2 separate regions of the Homo sapiens genome follow, and region 2 is linked to region 1. Evidence: fine-mapped expression QTL. A gene starts in region 1. The other region holds a variant in brackets. All regions are shown on one strand. Distances are between the middles of the regions.

What was found. PIP is the estimated chance that this variant, and not a neighbour inherited with it, causes the effect. A credible set is the group of variants that fine-mapping cannot tell apart.
Region 2: its variant is the best candidate, but not a certain one, in a credible set for the expression of HHLA2 in whole blood (TOPMed, PIP 0.73).

Annotation. Positions count from the first base shown.
Region 1 is chr3:108,294,732-108,299,133 of GRCh38, reverse strand. It overlaps HHLA2 (HHLA2 member of B7 family), which reads right to left and starts at 2,586. Exons shown (of 10, transcript NM_001282556.2): 1 at 2,535-2,586.
Region 2 is chr3:108,108,649-108,113,050 of GRCh38, reverse strand. LOC105374031 (a long non-coding RNA gene) reads right to left here. Exons shown (of 8, transcript XR_007095997.1): 3 at 2,428-2,609; 4 at 1,729-2,116. Among named protein-coding and RNA genes, the nearest start is that of LINC01215, 14 kb to the left of the region's middle. The variant C/G (reference allele first, on the strand shown) is at 2,414.

The sequences.
Region 1 (4,402 bases):
GTAATTGACAGGATATTGTAGTGATTGCAGTTAAGGAATATAGAGTATGGGACAAAAAGAAAAGGTAAAAGGTTTTCACCTTCAGAAGGTGTTCTTGGTGATGTCTCTAATCTAGGTTAAATTAGATAGAAAGGATCTCATTTCTCGAAGGTGGTGTCTAGGACAGACCTGGATAGCCATGGAGAAGACATCCCACCTGAAACAGAAGTATTAAAGCAAGGAAGCTGCAAGTGTACATTTGCCTATCTCAGGTTTGTATCTTAATCTCTTATCACTTGGGAATTAGTGGTTTGAACTCTAAATGGTAAGCAGCAATGTGCAATGACAGACTCTAAGATTCCAAGATCGAGGACTAAGGAAAAACAAGCCCCCATTCGTTACTCAATTTTAAAATGAGCCTCTGAGGGGACATTTAACAGTATTTACAGAGAGAAAAAATCTGAATCTGCAGTTATTATAACAAGCTGCACCTGCTAACTGCATTCTAGTCTCCAACAGAAAAAGATGCAATACAGTACATTATCTCTGAGACCTGCTGGAAATGAATATCCAGAGAAAAGCAAGCTTCTAAGGGTGAAGCCTATGCTGAAGAAAGAGAAATATGCATTTTACTGAAGATGGTGCAGTAAAAGGGGCCTGCAAATATATACTGGAAACTTTAGTTGGGGCTAAATTAGAAGGATTTTGAACATATAAACACTACAACTGAATACCAAGGAAAGGTGTGTACATGTTATAAAGATAGTATTGTGTTAGAAAGGAGAACCTAAAGTTATAATAAGCCAGAATAGCAGGATTTTTCTGGTGGCATATGTTTATAGCCCCAGTTAAACGGAATGGACTTGGATCCTCATTTTCTTTTCTAGGAGAGTCAGGTCAGAGTCCTAGATAGGGAATACCTAATAGCTAGTCTCATCTGACAGAAGAATAAGGAGGAAGGAATTTCTCTTGAATAGGCAATTGGTCTTCCCAGAAATTAAGTCAGGAAGCAACTGGCTCTTGGATAGCCCCTGGGTCGCTGCTATGCAGATACTTGGAAAAGGGGTATTCATTCCTACTAGGCAGGGGAAAAGTTTGCATGCCTGCAGTCAGAAGTCAGTTAGACAGACATTCAAAGCCTCAAAGAGAATGCTGGTTATGTAACTCAGAACAAACTCTCCACTCCTAGGCAAGTCTCTGGGAATTTAGAGTTGACATGACAACCTCAGGAGGAAAAACACCTTGTTTAATGCTGTACTACGTGACCTACACCGGTCACTGACCAGAGCAAGGAGAAGCCACCCAGAATCACTGGTTAATGATCAAAATATTAAGCTATGGTCTATTTTAAGCACCTGGAGGAAAACTCAACACAGGAATTGGTTTCTTTCCCAGCTCAGGCCAACTGATAGAACATGCTGGTGGGCCACACGCCAAAAGTAGGCAGAGCCTTCATTCATGGATTTATTTAAGAGCCACCAAACTTTCAGGCTACTCAATATGATTATATAGGAAATCATTTGTCTTTTACATCTATATTCTGAAATAATAATATTTATTAAACACTTTCTACATACCAGGCACTTTGCTAAGCACTTTAATAAATTTCATTTAATCTTCACAGCAATACTAGTCTACCCCCATTTTACAGATTAGGAAACTGGCTCTGAGAAAAATATACAACTGGTTAATGATGAAGCAGGTAAATGCACCAAGGATTACTTGACTCTAGAGACTATGATCTTGACCACTACACTTTATTGCATCTTTTGATTAAAATATGCTTATAATGGGATATGACACCAATTTGCCATTCTGGACAGAAATTATTTCCTCCAAGTTTCTAGGAAATGGGAAGCTCAAGTTTGTTTTGTCAGGTACCAGTAACACAAAAAAACCTAAATTACCTGTTCATATTTTTTTCTATTATCCAAAGTCCCAAACAATAGAAACCCAATGAGAATTGAATCTTAACTTTTTGAATCTTGTTTTAGTTATTAAAAAATGACATAAACTTAATGATTCTTCCCTGAGACAGTGGAAATATCTAGGAGACTTCTAAGTTTCTTGTATTAGAATTCAAAGATCACGATTCTTCTGCTAGATAACCACTACTACGGTCCTTTTGTTTCCACCACAGAATGGAACGCAGTGCATCTTGGAGCAGCTAATAAAACTCTGTAGTGTAACTAGATGAACAATTACAAGTAAGAATACACTCTTAGAGATTTTTTTAAAGTTCGCAGATAATTTTCAAAACAAACATTGCTCATCCCTCTTTCACTGTCTTACCAGAATGTTAGGTATTTTCCTCATTTTTGCTAAGTTCTTTTATTTGAAATATATCAGCATGTTCCTTCAAGACAACCTTTTACTAAGTATTTGTTTGGTGCATATGCACAATACATAGTATATGCACTAAATCAATTTAAAAGATCAGTCACTAATTTTTTCCTAACGGGAAAATAAAGTGTCAACTAAAAACCACCCATATTTGATTTATTCATGCCCACTTTTAAGTTCTAGGTATAAACAACTTAGAAAGAAATCCTTACCTTACTTAGAAATTCATACCGTCTAGTCAAATGCTAAGTAGTCCATAAGAATAAACATTGAATTCAGCTATGAGTTTCTCAGAGAGTAAAGTCCAAGGTACGTTTGATTTGCTACCTATGACAGACCAAGGAAATCACATCATCACCAAGGACTCCCTCCTTCAAACTAAGCCCCACCCAGATCTGAGTCAGTACAGATCTGAAAAGTCCAGGAATTAGAAGATGCAGTTTCAGACAACATATTGAAACAGCTAAGCATTGAGCTGTGGGAGCAGTGGACTCTGGTTTCCATGCTATGGTGTCAGCTTCACCATCAACATGATACAGGCAACCTCCTGAGGTTGGACTGCCTGTGACCTGTCTAGCTTGCTGCAGAGTTGTAAAGAAAATTGTGTAGCTGGTTGCAGTGGGTGCCAATAGTTCTGTGAGAAAGAACCATAACCCTACACAAAGTTCATCTGCACCTACAATTCCCATTACAGTTCTGGTCGCTAGAACACCCAAGCTTAAACTCAACTTCAGAGAAATAAAGACCTCTCTGAATTCCACATGGAAAGTTGGGCAGTGCCCAGCCTCTATGCTGTCATATCATTTAATCTCTCTCTCCCTCAGTGTCACATGCATGGCATGCATGCACATACAACAGATGCTAAGAGTCATGCTTTACTCACTATTGTATCCCAAACAACTACCACTTACTTACTAGCACATAGTAGCTGGTCAATATCTGTTTGCTGAGTGCATGGGAGCAAAAGTTACAAAGTGAACAAAAATTACCTTAGGAGGACAATAAACAGGACCCTTCTGTCTGGAACAAAGGATGCCATCCAAGCCTTGGCACAGCACACAAATCCCCTGATCATATAATCATAGGGCCCTGTCTAGCTTTATAGCCTTTCGGCATTACTCACCACATCAACGTTAACCTCCTGCCACACATGCACACTCAGGGGAGAGGGCAAAGTACATTTGGGGAACTCCCCCTCCTCTTCCCCATCTCTTCCTTGACTTCCTTCTTCTCTAGTCAGAGTCATCCATAGTGAGCCTTCTGCTGCCCACTGGAAACTGGGTTGAAAGCGCCAGGGCTCTTCCTAGAATCCCCAAAGTCACCCACGCCAACGTTTTCTTTTTTGTTTGTTTTTGTTTTTCGTTTTTTTTTTTTTTTTTTTTTTTGAGACAGAGTCTCTTTCTGTCGCCCAGGCTGGAGTGCAGTGGCACGATCTCGGCTAACTGCAAGCTCTGTCTCCCAGGTTCACGCCATTCTCCTGCCTCAGCCTCCCGAGTAGCTGGGACTTTCAACCCAGTTTCCAGTGGGCAGCAGAAGGCTCACTATGGATGACTCTGACTAGAGAAGAAGGAAGTCAAGGAAGAGATGGGGAAGAGGAGGGGGAGTTCCCCAAATGTACCTTGCCCTCTCCCCTGAGTGTGCATGTGTGGCAGGAGGTTAAAGTTGATGTGGTCAGTAATGTCCAAAGGCTATAAAGCTAGACAGGGCCCTATGATTATATGATCAGGGGATTTGTGTGCTGTGCCAAAGGCGCCCGCCACCACGCCTGGCTAATTTTTTTGTATTTTTAGTAGAGATAGGGTTTTGCTGGGGTTCCTGGTTTAGCCAGGATGGTCTCAATCTCCTAACCTCGTGATCCGCCCGCCTCGGCCTCCCAAAGTGCTGGGATTACAGGTGTGAGCCACCGCGCCCGGCCGCCAACTTTTATCATTAATAAGATCTATTATGAAATGAAATCAAAATCAAACTGGGACTTAAAAGATGCAGGCAATCCCTGCTTTCACCTCTGAATCTCCATGGCCATGTAGTTAATGGTACATCACACCACTGTAATATTAGTTTAGGGAAATAGCAGAGCTCC
Region 2 (4,402 bases), 190 kb after region 1:
GCTGAATTATTAGCTGAGCACTGCTTCCACCCTTCATTCTTTCTTTTGTTCAGTCATTCATTCAGTATTAATCATGTGTCCAACACTGTACTAAAAAAAAGCACCCTATTAAAAATTAATGAACATGTTAATGTCAATTTAGACCAAAAGGAAAATTTCGAAGATCTGTCTAAAGGCGTGGCCTAGGACAAAAAGCATCAGAATCAAATGTGGTGCTAGTTAAAAATGCACATTCCTGGAATCACATCCCAGACTTATTAAATCAAAATTTCTGGAAATGGGACTTGGGGATCTGCACATTTAGCAAATGTCCTGGGTTATTATTTTGCACACTAAAATTTTAGAACCACTACTAAAAGTGATTCTTTGTCTTCTATTCTGAAATTGTAAACGTTTTAATCAGTGAATTGGGTGAATTTCAATAAAAACTTTGCCTATCAAGCTTGTAGATCGCTGAAAGTTGGAGGTAAAGCTGATAGACAATATTAAAGAATCAAATTTGAAAAAGACCTTGGAAAAGGAGAAGGATGGAATGAAATTAACAATATACAATTTAATAGGGTTAAATGTTAAATTCTGCATCTAAGTTCAAAGAATCAACTACTTAAATACAAGGTAGAAAGCTTTGAATTGACAGCAGTTCACTTGAAAAAGATTTAAAGTTCAATGAGAGTCAAAAATGTGATATTATTTCCAAAAAAGACTGATACAAATTTTAGGATGCATTAATAAAAACCAAAACTAGAGAAGGGAGGGGCAAGGTTGTACCCATCATGTTCTGCAATGGCAGAGCATATCTATTTTTAAATATTTAAATATATACATATTTTTTAAAAAGACATTATCAAACTAGAGTGTGTCCAAGGGAAAGTGACTAGGTAGTAAAGTGCCTTAAACCCACATCATATGAAGAATTAATGAAAGAACAGACTATGTTTCACATAGAAAAGTGAAAACTTTCTTTAATAGCCAACCTTATAGGGTTGAAAGGCTATTGTGTTGGGGGAAGAAATAGACATTTTCTATATGGTTCTGCAAGAAAGAACTGAGGACATTAGGGCAAAGTTAAGGGAAAGTTATTTTTGGTTTAATGTATGAAAGAATTACCTAAGAATTAGCAAGTTCAATATATGAAATAGGCTGTTGCCCTTATGAGATAGTAAGTTCCAGAAGTATGTTAAAATCTCTATCAGAGATTGTGAAAAGGATTCCAATCAATCAACCAATCAACGGAGGTGCTAGGGCTTAAATGTTTTCGCCCCCTCAATGCAACAGTATTGACAGGTGTAGCCTTTAAGAGGTAGTTAAGTCACCAGGGCTTCATCCTAAAAAATGGTATTAGCATTAGGCCCTTTAGACCTCAAGGCTGGAGGAAGCACCCTTTTGCCCTCCCATCCCTTCCACCACGTGAGGACACTGCATTACCCCCCTCCAGAGGATAAAGCAACAGGCACCGTCTTGGAAACAGAGTCCAGGTTCTTACCAGACACCAAACCTGCTGGCATCTGTATCCTGGACTCCCAGCCTCCAGAACTGAGAGAAATAAAATTCTGTCTTTATAAATTACCTAGCCACTGATATTTTGTTACAGTAGCACTAAAGGACTAAAGAGGTGATGAACCAGTAGTAACGGTGGAATAGGAACTAAGAAGTATGTTTAACTGAAACCATTGTAGCTGAAATACAAAACTTAAAAAAAAGGAAAGGAAAATAAATAAGAAAGGATACCTGCAATATATAGGACATCTATCCAAACAGAGATTCATTCCATTCTTTAAATTTCTGTGTAACTAGTTATAATTTGGGGTCCATTGCAAAGCCTTCAAAGCCTTATCTGGTTATACCATTTGTTTATCCTTCCAAAGGAATCAGTTGCTGACATCTGTTAGTGGGGCTATTTTGAAGAAGGCAAGAGTCAGAATGCCCATGACACACTTCCATGGTCTTCTGCAGAGGAAACTTGACCACGGTGAATCCTTAAGTTGACATATCTCAATTCTTAGCCTGTGTTACCCTGCTACAGAACAACAGCCAGGCTTGCCAAAAGTGGGAAGTGAACTCAAAGTCAAATAACATGTAGACTGGCCGGTGCGATATGGACAGCATGGCACAAAATCTGTGTCAAAACAGGGATGCTGGTGATTAATTGAAGGAATGATATGCCCTCTTCGGGTGATTTTTTTTTTTTTTACATTTAATGCACAAATTAGTTTGAGCATTTGGAAGATGGAGCAGGAGCAGAAGATACCCAGAGAGAAAGTCAACTGTAGATGTTGTGAAAAGCCATTGGGTATATTGAAATTAGAAGTGGGCAAAAGTATAAGGAAGCTGTAACGAAAAGATAAATAAAGGGCAGGAATAGTTGAGTTGGTTGGTGGGAATAAGGACTGTTGAAGCAGATTATATGTATACC[C/G]TTGCCAGAGTTACCTAACAGCACTCTACTGCTGAGGTGATGTCAAGATAATTCAGTTGCTAGGGGTCATCTTGGATGTTTGGGGGAATTCTGTTCTTTGAGTAGCATTCCAGTCTCCAGTGTCAACTCTTGTGCAGTTCTTGTTCTTGTCCTTATTTCTATGTGAATCTTATACAACACTTTTCTGACTTTTCTGCTAAATGAAAGAAAAGAAAAGAAGGTGCTAGTACTACTAGCAGTCTGGGGCATAGCCCAAGAGGCTTATCACGAGCTTAGCATTTCTTTGCCATCTCATGTTGTTTTCATCTTCAAAATTCCATCTACATTTTCCTCCTTGAGAGATTGGTATTATTTTTTATTAAAAATGTTGTATTCATTTAAAATGGATAATTTAGAGAGACATGGCATATTTTTTGTTTCAGTTACTTCTCATAATTTTTGGCTAATGCCATGTAATCCCTTGAGATATGGCTACCTCGGTTTGAGACATATGATCTTACAATAAACTTATATTACTTTAGGTTATCTGGGTGACTGTTCCCTGAAGATCCTAACTAATGCAGTGGTTTTAGGGAGATATAAGTGTGTGTCTGTGTGTGTGTGTGTCCCATTCCAGAATGTTATCTGAATTACAAAAGTCAGAAAACAGGATTTTACATGTTTTTTAAAGTACTTGATAATTTATGATAAAATTAAACACATGCTACTGAACAATGCAGCATGTGAATGATGGAGTTTAATGTTCAAACCCAAATCTGCTCATTCGTAGAAATTTTATATCTTCTTGTGTATAAAAATAAATGATATTTTGTTTTTCTTAAGTCAGTGTCACTTTATTGTAGGCCTGAAGGAAGTCCATCTTCTTTCACATAAAACCCACTCAAGAATAGGAAAACAGAGAGAGAAAGCAGCAGGCATGAGCAATACAAAGAGAACCAAGGCTAAGACTTAGAATTCAAACTTGGTCAAGGTGTAGACTTCCATGTGGAGAAATTGTTTCCATTAGATTCTATTTAAAAATTAATAATGTTAAGAATTAAGCGTTCTTATATGCTGAAGTGTAATTGGTAGTTATTAAATGTTATTTATTAAAATCCTAATAAGAATTAGACTTTAAATTAAATACTGACTCCCACTCAATTAATTTAAATAATTAAGCCTAATGTTACTGGTGAGGGATGACAGGGAGGAGGGAGAGTCCATTGTGAAACCCATTTTTAATAAAAAGTTGTATATGTAAATAATGTGTTAAAAGATTATCATTTTCCAAGCCACTTTTTTTGTCCATTGCTAACATCTACTTTCTTTAGAAACTGGCTTATACTTTCCAGGCATTATTACAATCCATGAAATTTACAGAGAACCCGCTAATGACTATGCACACCAGTTCACTTCAAAAGTCTTTATTGGACCAGACACAGCGATGGAGCCCACAGCCTTGAGAGAGAAAGGGACTTGTAAACACACAGTTACAGTGCAGCACGATACGTGCAAGATGGGAAATATGTACTGGGCATCAAGTCGGGAGGCTTAGAAGAGTCTTCACAGATGTGGTGATCACTGGGTAGGATTTTGACAGATTACTAGGTAGGACTTTGACAGTTAAATATCAGAGAGGAGGATTGCAAGCAGAAGTACTCTGAGGTGCAGAGATGTGAACCGGCATGCTGTTTGAGAGACAGCTTTACTTCGGTAGGACTGGGAGAGGTTAGAGGAAATGAATTGTAGCCTCAGTGAGAAAAGAAATGGGATCAGGCTAGATTCACCTTCTCTTCTCTCTCTGTGACCTGAGGCAAATTATCTGGTCTCTACAAGCTTCCATTTCCTTATTTATAAAGTTTCTTCCTAGAGCTATGTTGTTTATGATTATGGACAAAGACCTGGCCCCTAGCACTCACTGAAGTCTAGCAGCATGGTGTTGGTGGAGTTTGACATGGTTAAGTACACGAAATGGGGACACCAGGCCTATTGTCTCATAGGACCACCTCA